Linked DNA regions of Homo sapiens: all the other regions are linked to region 2. Evidence: fine-mapped expression QTL. A gene starts in region 2. Each other region holds a variant in brackets. All regions are shown on one strand. Distances are between the middles of the regions.

Region 1 (8,285 bases), 73 kb after region 2:
ACTTTACATTAAAAGAATGCTTCAAAATATTTCATAACATTCAGAGCACACAGGACAAAATGTTAGAATCGGATCCAAATTTAGAAAGGAATGTGATGATTCATCAGGACATAGGCAAGATGCTTACCCCATTTCTTGTAAGTTTCATGACGAGAAATTCAAGCTATTCTTGGTTAAGATTTTTATGAAGGGAAAAAATCTCACGCTTAAAATGTCTTCTGGTGTTTTAAATTACACTATGCTGGATAAATATTAGTTATATTAATTTTTTATTTCTCTAACATTTATAACTAACATAAGAGTTTTTAACGCCTCGACAAACAATTTTAAAGGTCAAAGAACAATCATAAATTTTTGCATTTATTATTAACACTGCTTTGCACAGTTCAGCATAAATGGTCATGTTTATGGCTCTGCACCATCTTGCAAGTCAAGGACTGCCTTCGTGTGTGTCTGAATGTGTCTCTGTAAGATTGTGTGTGCATGAATGTGTGTATGTGTGCATGTGTGAATATGTTTGTGTATGTTCTGATCAAGTAATGAAGGATAGAAAGTCCTAGATTAATACTTTTCACTTTGTTTTGATGTGTCAAGTATCATAAGATCATCTGAAATACATATTTACATTAGCTGTTATCTTAGAGCTTCTCTGATTTTCTTACAGTTTTTCTGAGACAGGGTATCGATCTGTTGCCCAGGCGGGAGTGCAGTGGCACTCTCACAGTTGTCTGCAGCCTCAACTTCCCAGGCTCAAGTGATCCTTAGACCTCAGCCTCCCTGATAGCTGGGACTACAGGAGTACACCACCATGCCCAGCTAACTTTTCTATTTTTTTATAGAGATGGGGTTTTGCCATGTTCCTCAGGCTGTTCTTGAACTCCTGGACTCAAAAGATTCACCTGCCATGGCCTCCAAAAGTGCTGGGATTATAGGTGTGAGCCACTGAACCTGGTCTAAGGTAGAATTTCTTGGGTAGGATATTCTCTCTTAACAGTCTTTTTTCACTCATTGCATTATAAACAATTTAAGAAATGGCAGAAATTTCTTGAACATTTTGAAACTGAATTTCAGTTGTTTTCCTGATTTTTTCTAGAAGTGTTTGATAATTCTCTTGAGTTTTTCTTAACGATAATAATCATTCTAATAAACACAATAATAGCAACCAACATTTACTGAACATTTAGTATGTGTCAGCTTCTTTGCAGAACATTTAATATATATTATGAGGAAATGCAATGCTTTTCTTTTACTCAACAATTATAATAACTTAAAATTTGAATACATCCGGAAGGAGAAGTCTTTTACACATCAATTATGGTTGGTGTAACTGACACCTTAAGAGTTTTTCACATCTGAGATAAGGGGCTAACAGTGTGGGGAAGGATCTGTTGCTGATCTCTGCACTTTTGCTCACTGCATGTGACCAAGTGGCTTTAGTGGCCTGAGACTTGCTCTCTAGAGAGAAGCAGTAAGATATGACCACTGAAACCAGCACAAGGATCTAAAATGTGCTTTTACCTTGTATTTGGTAACAATATACTTGGTAACTTGGTGGTATGATACATGGAAAAAGAACCAGTCTAGTAAGTGCCTAGAGATACTGGCAGTGCATGATAATTAAACTCTCCAAATCCTCCCATAGAAAACTCAATGAGCTGTATTTACTTCTTTCTGGCATTATAAAAAATTATGTATCCTTTTATGTGCAGAGACAGTTCCTTAGGGATGAAGAGTTATGCATGCTCATTAACAGAAGAATGTGTACCACAGCAGGTACTGCATGCTAAACCCACGACTTATGACCCTATTGTCCAAATGAGTGGCAAGCATAACTTCTCCATTGTGGTGGTGAATGAGAGGATGAAGAGATAATGATGGTAATGAAAGAGGTTAATTTAAATGTTCTTGATCCATACTTTTGTTGAATATTCAGGTATATTTCAAATTAACCATGCTTCTTAAAAGGTTGGAATCCAAGTGTAGATTTTTTTTGCTTCATTTCCTGTGTTTTGAAATAGAAGATACCATTGGAGTTCTGTGTTAGAATTGTCCAAGCACATTGCCCTGGCTGTGAACCTTGAGTATTGGTTTTAAGTCTGTCAGTCTAAAAAAACTTTAGATTGTTCTCGTTGGGCTTTCTAGACTGACTTTCCCTGACTCTGTGGGCATGTGTATTAGCATAATCTTTGCCTAAAGATTTCTACTTGGTCAACTGTTCCCTATAGTCCTTTTCAGTTTAGAAGAATGCAGTACTGGGACAGATGCGGTGGCTTTGATGTTGGAATCTTCATGATAATTCTTCTTTTCAAAAACTTAGGTCCTTTGTGTCATTTACTATTATGATCAATGTACATATTGTGTGAATACCTAATTCATGAGAATTATCATGAAAATTGGCTCATTGACTATATATACATTAAAAGATCTCAAGTGAACAAAAAGTAATTTGTGAGGAAAGATAATTGAATGAAAGCAACAAATGCTAGGGAATTATGTCATTTGGAAACCTAGTCAGCAAAGAGAAATGGTGAATTATTATACTTTTTGCTAAAAGAAATAAGAAGGATAAAAATTTAGGCTCTCAAATGAAGGAAAATGAATTGAGAGCCTTTATAATACTGTATTGTCTCAGATTGGGTTCCTCAGAAGTAGAACTCCCAGGGGAAACCCTTAAGTGGGCAGGGAAAGCACAGCAGGGAAGGGAGAAAGTGGAGGAAGGGTTTGACTTAGCTTGGACAGAATCTCCCAGAGTGTGACTTCATTCAGTCTAACCCTATAGCACTCTGGAGTATGAATTAGACCTATTTGTGTTGCAGGTTCATGCTCCTTCATCCCATACTCATTGGATGATAGTCTCAGGGTGTGCAAAGGATCATAGGCCCTCAGGCACTTCCCACTTTCTGCCCTTGTCACAAAGTGGCTCCATCAGCCTGAGAGTTGTCCTCCAAAGAGCTACAGGAATTGGGGGTGGGGGACTGAAAGCACCAGACCACAAAATCGGGGTGGGGTGCATGCAAAAGTGGCAAGAAGGAATGGGAAGGAGATTCAACATTGTCTGCTATACAGATGATCCTAAGTTAACTTCAGAATCGTTTCCAAAAGAAATTCTCCCAAATAATAGTGATGGTTATCTGTATTTGTACAGGCCACACAAGCTTCTCACATTTATTATCCCATTTAATCTTTGCCTTAACACAGCGAGGTAGAACACTCAAATCTTGCAAATCAGGCAGCTACTGTTCAGAGAAGCTAGGTAACTTGCTTAAAGATGCAGCGCCAAAAAATGGAAGGGCAAAGCCACAGCCAGCAACCCTGACTTCAATCTAGTGCCCGTTCCAATAGGAGGTTGCTTTTATTATGTACTTTTTTAACCTGGTTAGTTTCCCTGTGAGATTCAAACTACTTTTTGTAACTGGGTTCATTACTGGGCCATTAGTCAATGCATATTTTCTAAGCTGATTTCTATTAAATTGAATTTAAAAGGCAGACTTTCTTATCCCCCAACGTACATCATCAGTCTCTGCAATTTCTCAGATACTTGTAGATTTATGGGGCTAGCCTATGGGCCATTTTAAGTCACTTCTGAAACAACTTTGTTAATAAAAAGAAGAAAACGTTTGGGAATAAAAGAAACAATTGAGGGCATTTTTTTTTAAAGATCAGAGGGGTAGAAGAAGGTTTCTTATCCTACATGTTTGTTCCATAAAAGGGATCTATATTTCTTTAGTTTCATCTCAAGAAGACAACACCTTAATTAAACTCCAGTGGGCCAGTTTAATTAAAAAATGTCAGTCAGATCCTCACAGGAGAACAAGATATCCATGAAACAGACGGTCTGCTTCCTTTGTGATTACTCAGAAATCTCTGGCCCTGCAGCCACACGACAGCGGATTGTTGTGGTGAGCAGAGCTTGTGCATATCCACTGAGAAGGGTGGGCTTTTGGTGGACCAATGAGTGAGGTCAGGGCATGATGAAGGAGAAGAGATACTAGGCAGCTGATCAGAATCTAGATTATCAACAGTCAGAGATGCTTTTCTCTATCACTGTGTGTTACTAATGGATTCATAGTCATATTTTCTGTTTTCATCACCAAAAGATATCTAAGAAGTGTGTCAGTCTTCCCTCCCTGCTCCTCCTCCTAACCTACCTTCCTCTCCCACTCTCTGCATTCCCTTCTGTGATCTGACAGGCCCAAGCCTTGCAGTTATGTGTGTATATGAGAGCCTTTTAGTAGCTACTTCAGCCTGAATCCAGCTCCCACTGTCAGCAAGGAAGCCACCTTCTGAAACCCTAGGGCAAGAGTCAGGGAGAAGGATTTAAGAATCACAATGTATTGAGGGCTTAGAGTAGTCATTCCTGCTTC[T/C]AGGTGTTTTAAATGCATGATTTCACATAATGCTGACTTTAACATTACCTAACTTGACACAGGGGGAAAGTGGAGAGAGACGTTCAGTGATTCTCCAAAAGTATAAAGCAAGTGTAGAAGTGGACAGGGTGTGACACCTTTCTTTCTCACAATAAGGGTCATGGCTGATACTTTGATAACAAAACACAGCTTAACAAGAGAAAAGCATAGCATCTTTATTTAAATAATCAACATTTTATGTGACTTGGGAGCCTTCACAATGAAGACCCAAAGACTCAGAGAACACTGCCTATTTTTATGTGTAGGTTTGGTGAAAAATGGACAGCTATGTAGAAATGTGATTGGACCAAAGGGGGTGATCTAATGGTTACGGATTGATGGGGAAACCCAACAAGGCCTCCCATCTGTTCAGATTCTTCTTGGCTTCTCTGTTGTAGTATTTCTTCTCACTGGAATGGGCAGGAAACCTCTGGAATGAGGGTCTTATGACGTACTATCGGACAAGGTTAGGTCAGAGAATTTCTTTACAGCCAGCTGACAGACAGAAAGACAGGGGAAGGTTAGAGTAATATTTCTAGGTTTTATGTCTGTCTTTGGGGAAAAGGGGAACTGCCTTGGGGAAGAGGAATTCTGTTTATTCTGACTCACCTTAAGAGAGAGCCAGGGAAGAGAAACAGGAGGGCAGGAGGGCAGAGAGATCTTCGTTCTGAGGCTGCTTCTGAGCCCTACATCTTTTAGTTCAAAGTACTCAGCACACCAAAGCATCATACTTTGGAGTATCATTTTCAGAGCCCCAATACAAGCAAATGAAGAAACTAGGAATTAACCTGCAAAGCTGCCTGTTAACCTGAAAAGCTTCCAGCCAGACTTGCTTCTCAGACATCTCTTCTTTATTTGTGAAAATGACTTTATTGTTTTAATCTGATTATTTAACTATTACAGGCTCATTGTAAAAATCAGATATATCAGAATAATATGCTGTTGTCATTGAGGACTTTTGGAAAAAAAATTCATTCTTTTGGCTGGGCGCGGTGGCTCACACCTGTAATCCCAGCACTTTGGGAGGCTGAGGCGGGTGGATCACGCGAGGCCAGGAGTTAGAGACAAGCCTGGCCAACATGGTGAAACCCCGTCTGTACTAAAAATACAAAAATTAGCTGGGCGTGGTGGCACATGCCTGTAGTCCCAGCTACTTCGGAGGCTAAGGCAGAAGTTAGGAGAATCTCTTGAACCCAGGAGGCAGAGGTTGCAGTGTATCGAGATTGCGCCACTGCACTCCATCTAGCCTGGGTGACAGATCGAGACTCCATCTCAAAAAAAAAAAAATTATTCTTTTGGTTACTAGCCAACCCTCCACCCCTACCTCCCCCAACCCCGTTCCTTTCTATGCTTATATCAACAACCTGTACATAGCCTTTCAGACCGTTCTCTGTGGGCATATGATCTGTTCAGAACTTTGTTTATACACCCATGTATGTGGAGGGATTTTGCCAGTTAGTTTTTTAAAGATGTGTTCTCTGCATCTTATTTTTTATTTAAGAGTATATCATGAAAAATTGTCCTGGTCAACTGGTGTAGCTTTAACAGACTCTTTTAACGTTCTATAATATTCCATACTATGAATGGCCGACAGTTTTTCTACTTTGTTTTTGTTTTTTTTTCTTTTTTAGCTCCAAGAAACAATTCTACAGCAAATATCTTTGATTATATATGATTTTACACTGGTGCTTTTATTTCTTTGAGATTGGTTTCTTAAAGGTGAGGTTTTAGGGTTGAAAAATGTTTGCATGTCTTATTTTAACAGATATCTTTAGATTGCCTAAGCAGTTTCTAGAACATGATTATACTTTATAACAAAAATCCATCAGACATAACTATGGACATGTGTTCCCAACTAAAATCCGACTTTTACAAATCTTGACTGTCTTAGTCAAATGTGTTAATAAAGATTTCAACCCTGGATTAGGTACAGACTGGAATGGTAGTATGCTTACTTGTGAATTTCCCTGCTGAACTTCTGGGTTACTTAAAATTCACAAAAGTTCTAAAAATTTTACTTATTGGGCATTTGGATAAAAAATTGTGGCATAGCACATCTATTTTGGCATTTATTGATAGAAACTTGATGTTGTGTCATTATAGAATGATAGGAGTTTGGAGGGGGAAGTGTTACATTGACTGCTACTGATTTTATCTTGTGTATGGTTCCTCCATATACTGTAGAAAGCACCATAAACTGTAGAATTACTGTGAATCATGTCTTGATGGAATGTGTCACTGGAGCATGCTGCAGAGTTATCTCATGTAGTGCTTTGTTGAAAGCCTATTTCCAAAACGGTTTTCAAAATGTTCAAGTTTTTAGAAAGAAGTAGACATTTATTTAAATTTACTTTAAAGACTACTGATTCAGGGCTAATGATTGTATAGTTTATTAATCAAATGTATTTAGCAGAAAAAAAAGCCAGCTACGATTCACTTACAATTGAGATTTTACTCTATTTTAACGTTATTTTAATGAGCTACAGATTTGAATGTGGGCTTTGTTCATCTGTTGCTTCCGCTCAATTGCAGTTTCACCCTAAGAAGACACAAGACAGATTGATCAGGCTTCCAGTCATTGTGAGGCTTAAATGAAGTGAACAGGGCCTTATGTTTCTAAACCAAATGAGAGGATTAAGGCAAAATAATAATAATAAAAAAAAACCTCCCGCCCCCCCCCCCCCGCCGCAAAAAATCATTCTACTCCCTTTAAGTCATTTGTTTGATTTTCTTAAATTTTATACTACGAGATCCCAGTTTTCCTAGGTAAGCATCAGGAGTTGAAACCATAAAAGTGAAAATTGCAAATATCCCACAGAACTATTAACATGTGTCCATGTAAGCAAAAAACTACTGTGTTATCTCATTTTTTGACACACACTAATTTCAATGCAAAAGTAAAAGCATTAAAATTATGTTAGATTTTTTCTAGTAGCTAATGTCCTTATGTCTAAAGTTAGAAAGGTATTTATCATCTAATGCTTTGTTGAAATTATTTCATGTTTATTTGATTTCTTTACATTAAAATGAATTTGTTTGAATTAAAACATGATTTTTATGGCTAATATTCATAGCCATATTTTCAACACTGAGTTTGTCTTGGGGAACTTCTCTGATGGGCCACATAAGGTCTGGGAAGCACATACTGGACAGCTTAGGCTGCTCTGTTTTCCATTTGCAAGTACAGTCTAGAGAGGCCAGGGCCTTCCAACATAGAGTTTTCCATTGTAATTATAAACTAGTTTTGCTGCGTAAGATGCAAAAGGAACTTCACTTTCAGGAAGCAACTTACAGCATGATGTATGGCAGCTTTGGCCAATTTCATTAAACAAGAAATTAATTATAGTTTCTGAACTTCCATGGCTCAACCTCCTGATAACAAGAAAAGCATTGTGTGCTCCTGTTATGCTAATTTTTAAAATTATAAATTGTTTATAGTTAATTCGAGGTTTATAAGTTAAATTTTTAAGCAAGAACAGGCCCTGATTAACAATAATCAAATTTCTATAAACTGACATTCTTGGTGGAATAATACAGATTCTTTTGACTTATTTGAATAATTCAATAAATGAAACATTTACAGTAGATAATGTTATCTATATCATATGTGTCATAATTATATAGGCTGTGTATCTTGCTATCTATCATAAAGATATAGTGTTATTTACTGCAAATGTTTTCATAGATATGAAATATATATCTGTAAATATTTTCATCTATACAAAGTATTATTTTGTATATATTAGATAGAATCCAGGATGGCTGTAAGTCATACACATTTTTAAGACGGTAAATTTCAAGAGGAGAGCTTGCTGTTGCGAAAAAGTCCTATCGCTAATACTGTGCATCACAAATATTAATCTTTTAATCATCCTTCACCTA
Region 2 (8,000 bases):
GCCACAACCTCTGCCTCCCAGGTTCAAGCGATTCTCCTGCCTCAGCCTCCCGAGTAGCTGGAACTATAGGTGCGTGCCACCATGCCCAGCTAATTTTTGTATTTTTAGTAGACAGTTTCACTATATTGCCCGCCTGCCTGCCTGCCTGCCTTCCTTCCTTCCTTCTTTTGAGAGAGACAGGGTTTCTTGCTCTGTTGCTCAGGCTGGAGTGTACAGTAGTGTACTCTGATGATAGCTCACTGTGGCCTCTAAGTCCTCGGTGGGCTCAAAGTGATCCTCCTGCTTCAGCCTCCTGATTAGCCAAGTAGCTGGGACTACAGGTGTACACCACCACACCCAGCTAACTAGAAGTAGTCTTTATGATGGACTGGCATTTGTTCAGTTAAAAATGGAGGACTCTGTTACTGAGGAGGAAGGGGTGAGCAGATATGGAGGGTCAACCGGCAATCTCTGTCAGAGAGGTGATGGGGATAATGGTATACTTTGGCGTTAAAACTGAATTGAACTGGATTGAATATAATGAGGCTAATAATGAGCCACCATGAAAGTAAAAGAAAAATAAAAGGTATCTTTAGATTGTTTTAATCTGGTTATAGAGCGAAGGTCCCTTTTAATAAAAGTGGAAAACCCAAAAGAAATATATATTTAAGATGTATTGCATATATATAATAAAGTGTCCCAAGTAAGCCACTGTGCAGATAACATAGGAATATGATACAGTTGCAAACCAAATCTGGTAAATAACTATGCAGGCTTCTTCCTTCCACTTCTCTAAGGCAGGGCAATCAACCATGGGTTTTTGCTGTTATTAATGTGATAAAATAATATGTTTGGTATGGTGTCTGGCAAATAATAAATGTTCAGTAAGTAGAATGAATTCTTAGTATTTTAATTATATTTTTAAACAAAGGTCATCTAGGGGAAAACAGAAGTATGAGGATTGAGACTTCTTCTGAAAATCAGTGAGTGGCTCTCTGCAGTGGTTACAGAAATGCCCCAGCATGGACTCCCTCCTGTAAACTGGCTCTGCTGTCCCAGCAGTGACGGAAAGCACTCAATTTGTTTTCTCTTGGAAGAGACAGAGTGGCTGTCAGTTTACTGCAATATTTTGGACTGCCTGGAAAATTCAATGTACAACAGGAGAAAGGAGAGGCAGGAGACAGACTCTGGAATAGAAGTCAAAGACAAAGAGGCTCGTAAACATCAAGATTCTGGGGCTAATCTAGCCATTCACAGCTTTAGAACCATGGACAGTAAAACTTAAAATATATACTATGTTCTAACCACCACAAGGTTATTCACTCTAGCAACTAAAAAAGCACTGGCCTCAGGATTTGCAACATTAAAAGTCACAGCTCATCCACCATCAGATGCTAACTGACCCTGCTGTTCCACAAGCCATAACTACAGCTTTGATTGGACAAGAGTCTGGTTTCAGTAACTTTCTCCTGATTAAGAAGACCACTGACCATTGACTGGTTTTGCCAGTTTACAGAGATTACACACTTACCTACCTTTGTATGTAAAATGATCTTTTGATATATAAAGCATAACTGTAGCACATTTAAATGTTAAGTAGCCACCCCAAAGTGAACATGGGTCATATGTTACGTGCATGTTTGTTCAATAGGCATGTGTCAGGACCACCTTCATGAATATTCATAGCTCCTCCTGTAACCAGTTAAATATATATGTTTAGCCAACCTCTTCAGCATAAAGCTCCCACCCCAAGCCCTCCTTTGAAGGGCCTGTCTCTAGTTTTGCCTGGATGGCCACCTTGCAGGCTGTAACCCTTTGGAAGAAATAAAGTCTCCTCTCTCCTTTTCAAAACTTAAAAATTGTGAATTTTTATTTTTATTTTATGTATTTAACTTTTAAGTTTAGGACACATGTGCAGGTTTGTTATATAGGTAAATTCACATCATGGGGGTTTGTTGTACAGATTATTTCATCACCAAGCTATTAAGCCCAGTAATTATTAGTCATTTTTTCTGATCGTCTCCCTCCTCACCCACTCTGCCCTCCAGCAGGCCCCAGTATCCGTTGTTCCCCTCTATGTGTCCATGTGTTCTCATCATTTAGCTCCCACTTATAAGTGAGAACATGCTGTATTTGCTTTTCTGTTGCTAAGGATAATGGCCCCCAGCTCCATCCATGTTCCTGCAAAGGATATGATCTCATTCTTTTTTATGGCTGCATAGAATTTCATGGTGTATATACCACATTTTCTTTATGCAGTCTACCACTGATGGACATTTAGGTTGATTCCATGTCTTTGCTATTGTGAACAGTGCTGCAATGAACATAAGCGTGCATGTGTCTTTATGACAGAGTGATTTATATTCCTTTGGGTATATACACAGTAATGGGATTGCCAGATCCTATGGTAGTTCTGTCTTTGAGGAACTACCACACTGATTTCCAAAATACATGTGGCCAACAAGCATATGAAAAAAAGCTCAATGACACTGATCATTAGAGAAATGCAAATCAAAACTACAATGGATTTTTTAAGTTAATAATGTGAACAGGCTGAGTATGAGGGACATGGTGGCCCAAGCTTGAGTATATATATGGAACCGTTCTGGCGAGGGGAGTTGTACAATGAAGACAATTTGTGCAGGGCTTCTCATTGCAGGTGGAGGATATGACTTCGTCACAAAGACAACCATTAAGAGTTTTGAACAGAGTAAAAGCTGGAGAGGTCTGTGTTTTAGGGAGGTGGAAATGGGGATGATGGACTGGAAGGGTAAAAAACCAGAGATTGGTTTTGAAGCTGCTGTACCCATTCCAGAGAAGTGTTGCATTGACAGAGCACACAAGTCCTCGAATAGGACCGTGGTTAGAACGGCCGATATTTATCAGTGGGAATGGTAAACATTTATCAAGTGAGCAACCAAGTTCAGTTACTTAATCTGAGTCTCATTATGTCTTCTATAAAATACACATTAAAAATAGAAAGTAAAAACGTGGGTAAAGTACCCAGTGGATGGTCATTACTCAGAAAAAGGTATTTTAAAAGTTTCTCCCTTATTCTTTCTGAGTACAGCCTGTAGTACTTGAACCACTTCTCTTTCGTCCCCTACCACGCTGTTCTGCAATCTCTTTTTACCTGTCTCACTCTCTTCCTGTACTGTGTGCCTCATCGGGACTTCTAAAGGCTTACGGCCTAGGTCTTTGTATTCCGTGTCTCTGGCACGCGCCTCTGCACACAGCAGGCCTGAACCAAAACTTGTGAGCAAATAGGATGTAAGGGGGTGAAGGAGGTGGGCGCGAAACGGGTTCGAGGTCGCGCACTCCGCCGGTTTCTGCCGCCAGCCCAACCCCGCTGGGTCGTACCTAAGAGATCGCCGGTGTCAGAGCGCAGCGGGCACCTTCACAAGCATCTTGAGGGACAAGCAGAGTCGCTCCTCCCGCAGGGCGCGGGCTAAGAAGTGAGGAACCCAAGGGGCTCCCGTCCAACTAAGAAGCGAAATCCCCCACCTCCAGGCCTTCAGGGCTGGTTCTTGGGAAATCCTAACTCTTTCCCTTCTAACCCCTTCCTTGGCCCTTCTTCCTGCCCGGGAGGATCAAGGGCGCTGTTTTCCAGAAGCTGCCGGGTCGGAAACGGTGGGGGAACGGGGCGGTACGCGTGGGTGGAGGATAGGCGGGGAGGGGGCAGTCCACGAACTTTTGTCATTCAGCCTGGGAGACCACGGTGACATTCCTGTCTGCGCTGCGGGCAGGCCAGCCTCTCCGGCCCTGGACTAGGGGGCGCCGCCGAGAGAAGCCGCCGCAGGCTGCAGAGTCGCCGACCGCGCTGTTCGCAGGCAGACCCCGGGCTGCCCACCGCGGCCTAGCGCGCGCCGGATGGCAGGAGAAGTGTCCGCGGCCACGGGCCGCTTTTCGCTGGAGCGGTTGGGCCTCCCGGGCCTGGCCCTCGCCGCGGCCCTGCTGCTCCTGGCCCTCTGCTTGCTTGTCCGGCGCACCAGGTAAGCGCCTCGGCCGCCAGGCCACGCATGCGCCCTGGGCCCCGCGGGCCGCGCGCGACCCAGATGGCGAGGGGAGTCCCCCTCCATGATTTCCAGTGCAGACAGTCAGAACTTGCTGCGGGGTACTGGCTTCCTTTGGGACTTTGTAATAACAAAGGCTTCTTCTGTCTTTTTCCCACACATACGCGTACATATTAAAGCTTTGGGACCGAATTCCATTTGCTGCTCCAGCGTAAGTTGTAATAAGCCCTAGGTTGGCGGTATGCATTATGCATCACAGACACATTGTGTGCCTTGCCACTGCGAGTTGATATTTTATGGCCTAGAATTCATAGAGCATTTCAGGAGGGGAATATTCTTAAATTTCATCAGTTAAAAGAGAACTGTTTCAAGAAAATGCCAGTGCATGGTGTGAACAATAACTCTGAGTGCCTCTCTTCCTCAGTTTACCTCACTGTACCTCATTTGGAAAGCTGAAATAATAGTACATGCCTCGTGAGATTTTTGTGAGTACTAAATGAGTTAATGGAGAGTATTTTATGCAGTTGTCCTATCATTTTTATAAGGACAAAACAAAACACACAATAATGACAAAATCTAGACGTGTGTCACTTTAATTTGAATTGTGGAAGTAGAAATAGAGAAGTTCAGATAAAATCATTCACTTTGAGTTTAATCTGTTTTTCCTTTCTTTCTGGGTCCTATTTTCATACTGCTCTGGTGTTCATCGCTTTTGAGAACCAAGCGGATGCATTTTGTTGGATGATAATTGATATATGTATGTATATTTGCATACATATGTATCAATGTATAGATATCTATGTGTGTGTGATACAGGTTGTTTCTCAATAGTTTTGGGGGAAGTGACACCTTTGTACTGCATACAAATATCTATGGACATTTCTAGAATGCCTGGAGATGAGTACTCTAGGAGTATTTGCCTTTCTTCCCATGTCAGTTTTCAGAGATGTTCCTGGAATGTGCGCTTCCAGGTTGCCTTTTCCAATGGCTGTACTTTTGCTTTAGAGCCCAAGATGAGGACTCAGGACACTTGAACTTCAGTGGTATGTGATTCTATGTAGGTTCCACCTTCTCTATTTGCAGGGTCTCTATTTGCATTTGCAAGCCAGTTAAGATGCACCCCTAGGTATGCCTTTAAAGAGAGGTGGTAAAAGAAGGCTGTTGGTTCTATTCCCACTTTACATGCAGGGTAGAAACAGACAAGCTGACTAGGGCAGTTTAGATCAGTGAAGGTGATTGGTGTGAGAATGTGGAACTTGAGGGACAGGAAGGCAAAAGGGCAAGGTAGGCTTTCTCTTCTAGCATTCTGAGAATAGGCTGATCTTTCTCTATATCATGAAAAATTATTTTACTGAGATATTCATGCCATCAACTGCCAATTCCTTCATACCAGGAAGACCGTTTAATGCCCCAAATCTATAGGACACTACTTTGATTATACTGCATTTCAGTGTATAGAAGATAGCTTCATTTGTCCCAGTACAGAGTCATGTTCCTTATTTCTAATGTTTGGATAGTTTACCCTAATGCTCTACGAAAATGATTTTTCAGATATCACCTCTAAGAACAGAAACATGGTTAAGAGTCCCTGATATATTCTTACAGATTTTTTAAAGCTTATGCTAATATGCATGAATATATGTTAATAAAAATCGTGGGGAAATATACCCTGTGTTGCACCTTATATTTTCCACTTTGCAATACATTTTAGATCCCTTCCTATGTCAGTTTATAGAAGTCATTATTTGTAATGATTATATAAATATACACCATAGATACACAAAAACACACACACAAAACATAGATATCTTTGAGCTTTTGTGGAAATATTTATGTAAGATGGTGGAGTTGTTATCAAAATGTATGTGTGCTTTATGTTTTAATAGATGTTGCCAAACTACTCTAAGTCTCAATTTATGTTACTACTAATGTAGTGCAAGTGCCAATTTCTCCACATTCTGCCAATACTGGTATTATAAATCATTTTAATTTTGCCAATCTGATACATAAAGAAAATGCAGCTTCATTTTTATCCCAAATTTTCATGTATTTACTTTTAAAGGAATTTGTATACTTTTAAAGAAAATAATTGTCTGTTTCTTCAATAATTTATTTTTCTATTGGGTTCTTTTTCTATATAATCAGCAAAGACTCTTATGTAATGGGAATTTTCATACTCTTTCATACCAGCTGCAATTATTTTTACTATTGTAATTTGCATTTGTTTAAGAGTTTCTGGATATATGTCCTTGCTTAGAAAGCCCTTCTTGTTCCTAACATGATAAAAATATTCAGCACAGTTTTCCATTATCACATTGAGAGATTTTTATACATACATAGATTACATTTTTATTCTCATTCCATTTTCATCTTTTGAACAATTATGGCTGAAAAGTTTGTAATATTGCATAGTATAGGAATGCCAGATGTTCCAAAGTAAAAATTTAAATATTACCTATAAAAATGGTAAAAAAATTTTTAACAATCGGTAAAAATCAATTCAGAGGTCATTTGTTCCCTTCAGACACTTACCAATTCCACCTCTTTTGGCTACAGTACTTTGATTTCCTTTTGTGAAATTGTCTTTTCCCTTGTTGGATATTATCTGGTGAGACTGTCAATCACAGATGCCATTGCAGTACTTGTCAGGAGAGATGACAGTGGCTTAGCCTAGGGTTGTGACTGTGGGGTTGATGGAAGGTGGTTAGAATCAGGATACATTTTTGACAGCAGAGTCAACATAATTTACTAATGGACTGAACATGATGTGTGAGAGAGATGGGAATCAACAATGAAGCTTAGAAGTTTTGTTTCCCTTTTTTTTGGTTTTGGGTTTTTTGTCTGATTATTTAGTGAACGGTAATATCATTTCCTTAGATAGGGAAGGTTTGGGAGAATTGAGGAAATCAATAATTCTCTTTGGGTTATGTTAAATAGGCAGTGAGCACCAAAAGCTCAGGGGAGAGGTCCAGGCAGGATACATATTTGTGAAAGCCATAAATGTGAAGTGGGAATTAAAGCAAGAACAAGTTGAGATCGCCTGATGAAAGGGTTTGATGGAGAAGAGGAGGGCCTGGGCCACTCTCCTTATGGAAACTGAGCCTGGCGGAGAAAGAGGAAAATATTTTACACTCCTTTCTAGTCAGTTCCTACCCGAGTTCTGAGTCAGTTTTGCTCATTCTCAAACTTCATATAAATGGGATTATACAGTATCCTTTTTTGCGTATAACTTATTTCTCTCAACATAATGATTTTAAGATTCACTCATGTTGTTGTATCTATCATTAGTTCATTCATTCTATTTAATTGTGGTTTGTAATATATATAACATATTGATTGAGAGAAGATTGAGGGGCATAGAATATAGAGTTTTCTATCCACAACCATTTCGGAAAATTGACACTTTTCGAAGTAATTGTTGCTTTTTTTTTTCTGAACACTTCCGCCAGTAATACATGAGGGTTTACGTTGCTCCACATCCTTGCCAGTATTTAATAATGCCAGTCTATTGATTGGAAGCACTATCTTTCTGGATTTTGGATTTTGTTTTTTTCCTATGAAGTGTTGATTTTTGTTTTAGCACGCAGATACATTTCTGGCTAATTATTCTGAACTCATGGAAGCTTAGTTTTACTCTTTGTCAAGGTGAATCTATGAAAAGCTTGAGATATTTACAGATTCTCTCTTCTTTGGTGATGCTATGGTTTGAACGTTTGCTTCCCCTCTAAAATTCATATGTTGAAATCCTAACTCCCAAGGTGATGGTATTAAGCAGTGGGGTCTTTGGGTTATAATTAGATCATTAGGGCAATGCCTTCATAGATGAGATTAGTGTCCTTATAAAAGAGATCCCAAAGGGCTCCCTTGCCCCTTTGTCCATGTGAGGACACAGCAAGAAGATGGCCATTTATGAACCAGGAAGTGGGCCCTCATCAGATACTGAATGTGCTTGTGCCTTGATCTTGGACTTCCCAGGCTCCAGAACTGTGAGAGATAAATCTCTGCTGT
Region 3 (8,256 bases), 150 kb after region 2:
TGGCTGTGAATCCATCAGGTCCTGGGCTTTTTTTGGTTGGTAGGCTATTTACTACTGATTCAGTTTCAGAGCTCATTATTGGTCTGTTAAAAGAATCAATTTCTTCCTGGTTCAGTCTTGAGAGGGTGTATGTGTCCAGGAATTTATCCATCTCATCTAGGTTTTCTAGTTTGTGTGCCTAGAGGTGTTCCTGATAGCTTCTGATGGTTATTTTTATTTCTGTGGGGTCAGTGGTAACATTCTCTTCATCATTTCTCATTGTTTTTATTTGAATCTTCTGTCTTTTCTTCTTTATTAGTCTAGGTAGCAGTATATCTATCTTATTAATTTTTTCAAGAAACCAACTCCTGGATTCATTGATCTTTTGAATGGTATTTCGTGTCTCAATTTTATTCAGTTCAGCTCTGATTTTGGTTATTTCTTGGCTTCTGCTAACTTTGGGGTTAATTTGCTCTTGCTTCCCTAATTCTTTCAGTTGTGATGTTAGGTTGCTGATTTGAGATCTTTGTAACTTTTGGATGTGGATATTTAGTGCTGTGAATTTCTCTCTTAACACCACCTTAGCTGTGTCCCAGAGATTTTGGTATGTTGTATCTTTGTTGTCATTAGTTTCAAAGAACTTCTTTATGTCTGACTTGATTTAATTATTTACCCAAAAGGGAGCATGTTGTTGTTTTTTAGTTTTTTGTTTTTGTTTGTTTGTTTTGTTTTTGAGACAGAGTATCTCTCTGTCGCCCAGGCTGGAGTGCAGTGGCACGATCTCAGTTCACTGCAAGCTCTGCCTCCCGGGTTCACGCCATTCTCCTGCCTCAGCCTCCCAAGTAGCTGGGACTACAGGCGCCTGCCACCACGCCCGGCTAACTTTTTGTATTTTTAATCGAGATGGGGTTTCACCATGTTAGCCAGGATGGTCTCTATCTCCTGACCTCGTGATCCGCCTGCCTCGGCCTCCCAAAGTGCTGGAATTACAGGCGTGAGCCACTGCGCCTGGCCACATGTTGTTTAATTTCCATGTAATTGCAAGATTTTGAGCAATGTTCTTAGTCTTGACTTCTATTTTTATTGTGCTGTAGTCTGAGGGTGTGTTTGGTATGATTTCAGTTCTTTCACATTTGGTGAGGATTGTTTTATGTTCAATTATGTGGTCAATTTTAGAGTGTGTGCCATGTGGTGATGAGAAGAATGTATATTCTGTTGTTTTTTGGGTGGAGCGTTCTGTAAAGGTCTATTAGATCCATTTGGTCCAAAGTTGAGTTCAGGTTCTGAATAGGAATGAGCCAATTTTTAAAAGAGACTAATAAAATACTATAACCAGGTGTATCGTGGATATGGCAAAAAAAATTGTTAGTAGTCTATGAATAACGAAAGTTTGGAATCATTGGTAATTTGGAGAGATCATAGGCTAGGAGTCAAGAGGCCTAGATTTGCATTTTGAGTATTTATAATTTTAGAATGTTTGTAAGCCATTAGATTTCTTTATCTCAAAATGTTCACCTGTTAATTTTCAGGTAAAATTATATGTGATTCACAACAATAGCTATCATTGATAGACCCTTTGTTATGAGCTTGAATGTTTCTAAAGATTTTATACACACTACTGAATACTCACAACCACCCAGCAACGTAAACAGTATTATTATCTCTGCTTTGCAGAAAAGGGAGCTGTCTTAGTTCATTCAGGCTATTATAACAGCATACCATAGACTGGGTGACTTATAAGCCACAAATTTATTTCTCTTAGTTCTGGAGGCTGGGAAGTCCAAGATCAAGGCAGCACCAGATTTGGTGTCTGGTGAGGGCTGCTTCCTGGTTCATAGATGGTGCTTTCTCACTGTTTTCTCATATGGCAGAAGAGGTAAGGGAGCCCTCTGAGGTCTCTTTTATAAGAGCAATAATTCCATTCATGGGAGCTCTGCCTTCATGACCTAATCACCTTCCAAAGGCCTCACCCCCAAATACCATCACACTGGAGATTAAGTTTCAATGTAGGAATTTTGAGAGGACAAAAACATTCAGCTCATAGCAGGAGCCAAGATACAGAAAAAGATCTTATTCCAAGATTACACATTGAGTAGATGGTGAAACCAGGAGTCAGACTCAGATAATCTGGCTCCAGACGCTACGTCCTTAACCACCAACATTGTCTGAGAAACATTTGCAAAATTTATTTTAAATTACAGAGGCTCAATATGTTCATCCACTTCTCCAACATTATCTTTGAGTCACACCATTTTGTTTTATTGAAAGAGCTGCAGACTAGTATGGACCTGTGTATCATGCAGTTCTGCAGTGTAGTCTTGGGAGTGGGTCTCTTAATATTCTGGCTACCCTGCATAATAGAAGACTGAGCCTCATTTCTCAGCTCTGTCAGAGAAGAGAGAAACCATCTCAGAAGAACCAAGTGGTTTTGGTAACATTAAGCAACCCCTAAAACATTCTCCAAGTAGTATTTTTCCAAAGCTCATGTGATCAGAATACACTGTGGATGTCTCAGCCTTCTTCCTCATCTCCGTCTTCCCCCACCTCAAACACACTTTTATAGGTTGTTTTAATTTAGAAAGTCAGCACTTGCAAGTACATTTTATACACCCAATGAAAACTGTAAGAGGTTTCACAGGTCATTTGCCTCGTCTGAGCCCAACCCCACAGCATTCTATGGAGAAGGCCCCAGAATACTCTAGAAGAAGGTGTATTTGCTGGGATGAAAGGACAGGTGAAGGCCAACCTAGAAAATTTTCTGCTGCTCTTAGGTTATGTTATTAAATTGTAAGTTTCTTAGAGGTCCAAGTTAAAAAAATAAATGTCAAGGTTATTACAATTTAAACTTTTAAAAATCTTTGCCAGGCTTATATTAGAAAGGATTTTACCTGTGGCATAAACAATTAAATATTTCTTTTTTTGTTTTTTTGAGACAGAGTCTTGCTCTATCACCCAGGATGGAGTGCAACAGCACGATCTAGGCTCACTGCAACCTCTGCCTCCTGGGTTCAAGTGATTCTCCTGCCTCAGCCTCCTAAGTAGCTGGGACTACAGGTGCATGCCACCATGCCCAGCTAATTTTTGTATTTTTGGTAGAGACGGGGTCTCATCATTTTGGCCACGCTGGTCTCGAACTCCTGACCTCAGGTGATCCGCCCACCTCAGCCTCCCAAAGTGCTGGGATTACAGACATGAGCCACCACGCCCAGCCAAGAATTAAGTATTTCTATATATGACTGATCTATGACTTTGTTTCTAATTTTTTTTAGGACATTAAGGCAGTTCATAGTAATCTGTATATTATTTGATTCATTTTATTATTAGGAACAGATACACAGTCTAAATAAACTTGACCCATATAGACCAACCAACTTATATATTTTTCTGGGAGTATTACTAGAGAGAAGCTTCTGTAAACTTATGCCATTGTTTGTTTTGAAATTAAACTGTAAGACAGTTTTATTTTAAACATATGCACAGGCACAGGCAACAAAATAAAAAAACAGACAACTATATCAAACTTAAAAACTTTTTCACATCAAAGGAAACAATCAACAGTGAAAAAGCAACCTACAGAATGGGAGAAAATAATTGCAAATTATATGTCTGATGATGTGTTAATATCTAGGATATAAAAGCTTCTACAATTCAACAAAAACAATATATAAATAACCCAATTAAAAATGATCAAAGAACTTTGAATATACATATCTCCAAAGAATAAATACAAATGACCAATAAACACATGGAAAGATGCTCAACACCACTAGTAATTAGGTAAATGCAAATCAAAACCACAAATGGATATTGCCTCACACTTGTCAGGATGGTCACTATCAAAACAACAGAAAATAACTAGTGTTGGTGATGATGTGGAGAAATTGAAATCCTTGCACATTACTGGTGTGAATGCCAAATGGTCCAACCATGGTAGAAAACAGTATGGAGGATGCTGAAAAATTAAAAATAGTGTTTCCATGTGATTCAACAATCCCACTTCTGTGTCTCTATCCAAAGGAATTCAAAGCAGGATCTTGAAGAGACACAGGCCCACCTAATGTTCACTGCAGCATTATTCACAATAGCCAAGAGGTGGAGGTAACCCAGATGTCCAACAGCAGATGAATGGATAAAGAAAACATGGTAC[A/G]TACATACAAAAGAATGTTATATAGCCTTAAAACGGAAGAAAATTCCGCAATATGTAACAACATAGATGAAACTTGAGGATTTTATATTAACAAAAATAAGCCAGTTACAAAAAGACAAATACTGTATAATTTCACACATATGATGTATCTACAGTAGTCAGTATGATAGAAACAGAAGGTAAAAAGGTAGTTGCCAAGGGCTTGGGGGAGGAAATTCAGGAGTAATTGCTTGAATTGATGAATTGATTAATTTATTGATTCATGAAGGTGGTTTTAAAGAGCTGGAGGGGAACCGATTAAAAGGTTTAGTGGGCATAGAGTTTTGGTGGTGGAAGATGAAAACCGTTCTAGAGATCTGTTTTACAATAGTGGGAATATACTTAACATTACTAAACTGTACACTTAAAATGGTTGAGATGATAAATTTAATATTATTTGTTACCATGATTTTTTAAAAATGCACAGATTCTGGAGCATGTGGGTAAGGATGATGCTAATTCTTATAGGCTATGACAAGGTATCATTCATATTTTATTTTTAGACCTCAGGTCACTTTGGATGGTGGGCAATTGATTCTAGACCGTAGATTTTAGATTATGGAGAATTATCTGACTCTTCCATATCCCATTCAGCAGAAATTACAATATGCATTTTATGGAATTAAATATGAGAAAAGTTGTATAGCATCTTCTACACCTCTTGCCTTTACCATACCTCACTGTGATATGAATATTATCATCACAAGGAAATACAATTATTACAAAGTTGCCAGTTATCAGCAGAGGCTAGAGCAAAACAGAATGAATTAATTATTATAAGTTTCTACTTTACTGAGATACAGAGATAGCAGTGAGCAAAGGGCCATCAAGACATCACTTAACAAGCACTGAAATTAAAGAATGTGTTAATGACATGTGTTGAGAAAGGATGTGAGTACATCCCACAGGACTGTGAATGAACCATTGTGGAAACTGCATTTTCATGTGGGGATCCGAGCACAAATATGTGTGGCCAGGACAGGTACCATCATTAAATAGCGTTGTATTTCTCTTTAACAACCATATTCCTTTGGCAAGGGTATATGAGGACCAGATATACAGGGAAAAGGGGTAGATGCATGGACTAGGGTTAAATTCAATGGCGAATTATGACAAGGAATAATGAAATACAGATAATTCCTAGAAAAAAAGATCAAAATAAGAAGTGAATTACAAGGCAGAGCACATAATTCATAATCAACTCTATCACTACAGTCACCACAGTGTACCACTAACTTTTTATATATACCTTTTCCCACCTCTGTCAACATTGAGCTCTTTCAGGGAAGATCCTCTTATTCTTCCATGTGCCCTTGTCACCTATTATAGTGCTTGACACAAATTGAGTATAGAGTAATTGCTTGAATTAATGAATTGATTAATCCATTGATTAATGGATCTGTCAGCTAATTGTAGCCATAAAGCTAAGAGTAGCCATCCTTCTTTTGAAATCATTGGCATCTAAAAGGAACTTGTGATGATTAGCTTTATGTGTCAACTTGACTGGGCCATGGCTACCCAGATTAAATATTATTTCTGGGTGTGTCTGTAAGGGTGTTCCTGGATGAGCTTAGCACTTGAAGCAGTGGACTCAGTAGAGTAGACTGCCCTCCCCACTGCGGGAGGGCATCATCCGGTACATTGAGGGCCTGAATAGAATAAAATGTGGAGGGAGGAGGAATTTTCCTCTTTTCTCTGCCTCACTGTTTCAGCTGGGACATTGCATTTCATCTTCTGCTGCTTCTGGACTGGAATTTACAGCCTCAGCTCCCCCTGGTTCTCAGGCCTTTGGACTCAGACTGAATTATATTGTTAGTTTTCTGGGTCTCCAGCTTGCCAAAAGCAGATCATGAGACTTACCAACCTTCATAACCACGTGAGGCAATTCCTCATAATAAATAAATATATACAGACATATTTTGCATTTCACAAATATTGCATCTTTTATACATTGAAGGTTTGTGGCAGTCCTGAATTAAGCAAATCTATCAGCACCATTTTTTTTTGCAACACCATGTGCTCACTTCATATCTTTGTGTCACATTTTGATAATTCTCACAATATTTCAAACTTTTTCATTATTATTATACCTTTTTCAGTGATCTGTGGTCAGTGATCTTTGATGTTACTGTTGTAATTGTTGTGGGGCTCCAAGAATTGCACCCATATAAGATAGTGAGCTTAATCGGTAAATGTTGTATGTATTCTGACTGCTCCACTGACCAACCATTCCCCCATCTTTTTCTCTCTCCTCAGGCCTCCCCATTCCCTGAGACACAACAACATTGAAGTTAGGCCAATTAATAACCCTACAGTGGCCTTTAAGTGTTCAAGTGAAAGGAAGATTCACACTTCTCTCACTTTAAATTAAAAGCGAGAAATGATTAAGCTTAGTGAGGAAGGCATGTTGAAAGCCAAGACAGACTGAAATCTAGGCCTCTTGCACCAGTTAGCCAAGATGTGAATGCAAAATAAAAGTTCTTGAAGGGAATTACAAATGTTACTTCAGTGAACACACGTGTGAGAAAGTGAAGCACCCTTGTTGCTGATAGAGAAAAAGTTTTAGCCGTCTGAATAAAAGATCAAACCAGCCACAATATTCCCTAAGCTAGTCAAGGGCAGTTCGTGAGGTTTAAGGAAAGACACCATCTCCATAACATAGAAGTACAAGGTAAAGCTGATTGAGAAGCTGCAGCAAGTTATCCAGAAGATCTAACTATGATCATTGATGAAGATGGCTACATGAAACAACAGAATTTCCATGTACACAAAACAGCCCTCTATTGGAAGAAGATGCCCTCTAGGGCTTTCATAGCTAGAGAGAAGTCAGTGCCTGGCTTCAAAGCTTCAAAGGACAGATTCTCTTCTTAGGGGCTAATGCAGCTGGTGACTTTAAGTTGAAGCCAGTGCTCATTTACCATCTAGAAATCCTACAGCCTTTAAGAATGTGGTGTTTTTTGGCTGCATAAATGTCTTCTTTTGAGAAGTGTCTGCTCATGTCCTTCACCCACTTTTTGATGGGGTTGTTTGTTTTTTTCTTGTAAATTTGTTTGAGTTCATTGTAGATTCTGGATATTAGCCCTTTGTCAGATGAGTAGGTTGCGAAAATTTTCTCCCATTTTGTGGGTTGCCTGTTCACTCTGATGGTAGTTTCTTTTGCTGTGCAGAAGCTCTTTAGTTTAATTAGATCCCATTTGTCAATTTTGTCTTTTGTTGCCATTGCTTTTGGTGTTTTAGACATGAAGTCCTTGCCCATGCCTATGTCCTGAATGGTAATGCCTAGGTTTTCTTCTAGGGTTTTTGTGGTTTTAGGTCTAACGTTTAAGTCTTTAATCCATCTTGAATTAATTTTTGTATAAGGTGTAAGGAAGGGATCCAGTTTCAGCTTTCTACATATGGCTGGCCAGTTTTCCCACCACCATTTATTAAATAGGGAATCCTTTCCCCATTGCTTTTTTTTCCTCAGGTTTGTCAAAGATCAGATAGTTGTAGATATGCAGCGTTATTTCTGAGGGCTCTGTTCTGTTCCATTGATCTATATCTCTGTTTTGGTACCAGTACCATGGTGTTTTGGTTACTGTAGCCTTGTAGTATAGTTTGAAGTCAGGTAGTGTGATGCCTCCAGCTTTGTTCTTTTGGCTTAGGATTGGCTTGGCGATGTGGGCTCTTTTTTGGTTCCATATGAACTTTAAAGTAGTTTTTTGCAATTCTGTGAAGAAAGTCATTGGTAGCTTGATGGGGATGGCATTTAATCTATAAATTACCTTGGGCAGTATGGCCATTTTCACGATATTGATTCTTCCTACCCACGAGCATGAAATGTTCTTCCATTTGTTTGTATCCTCTTTTATTTCCTTGAGCACTGGTTTGTAGTTCTCCTTGGCCATCAGAGAAATGCAAATCAAAACCACAATGAGATACCATCTCACACCAGTTAGAATGGCAATCATTAAAAAGTCAGGAAACAACAGGTGCTGGAGAGGATGTGGAGAAATAGGAACACTTTTACACTGTTGGTTGGACTGTAAACTAGTTCAACCATTGTGGAAGTCAGTGTGGTGATTCCTCAGGAATCTAGAACTAGAAATACC

Direction of the effects. Positions count from the first base shown, and alleles are read on the strand shown. Sizes are in standard deviations (SD) of each study's normalised expression. Not every link is listed here.
With allele T in place of C in region 1, the expression in subcutaneous fat of the gene that starts at base 3,700 in region 2 is lower (large effect, 0.89 SD a copy in FUSION).

Evidence for each region. PIP is the estimated chance that this variant, and not a neighbour inherited with it, causes the effect.
Region 1: its variant is fine-mapped to the expression of CYP7B1 in subcutaneous fat (FUSION, PIP 0.95).
Region 3: its variant is fine-mapped to the expression of CYP7B1 in lung (TOPMed, PIP above 0.99). The same link has a PIP of 0.9 or more in esophagus mucosa.

Annotation. Positions count from the first base shown.
Region 1 is chr8:64,721,546-64,729,830 of GRCh38, reverse strand. The region is part of intron 1 of CYP7B1 (cytochrome P450 family 7 subfamily B member 1); the gene reads left to right. Among named protein-coding and RNA genes, the nearest start is that of CYP7B1, 73 kb to the left of the region's middle. The variant T/C (reference allele first, on the strand shown) is at 4,365.
Region 2 is chr8:64,794,437-64,802,436 of GRCh38, reverse strand. It overlaps CYP7B1 (cytochrome P450 family 7 subfamily B member 1), which reads left to right and starts at 3,700. Exons shown (of 6, transcript NM_004820.5): 1 at 3,700-3,971. The coding sequence starts at 3,850. It overlaps LOC105375879 (a long non-coding RNA gene), which reads right to left and starts at 3,656. Exons shown (of 3, transcript XR_928992.3): 1 at 3,340-3,656. LOC105375878 (a long non-coding RNA gene) reads left to right here. Exons shown (of 4, transcript NR_188111.1): 3 at 1-69; 4 at 911-1,838. RefSeq lists silencers at 3,733-3,782, 3,793-3,902.
Region 3 is chr8:64,645,300-64,653,555 of GRCh38, reverse strand. The region is part of intron 1 of CYP7B1 (cytochrome P450 family 7 subfamily B member 1); the gene reads left to right. Among named protein-coding and RNA genes, the nearest start is that of BHLHE22-AS1, 68 kb to the right of the region's middle. The variant A/G (reference allele first, on the strand shown) is at 4,127.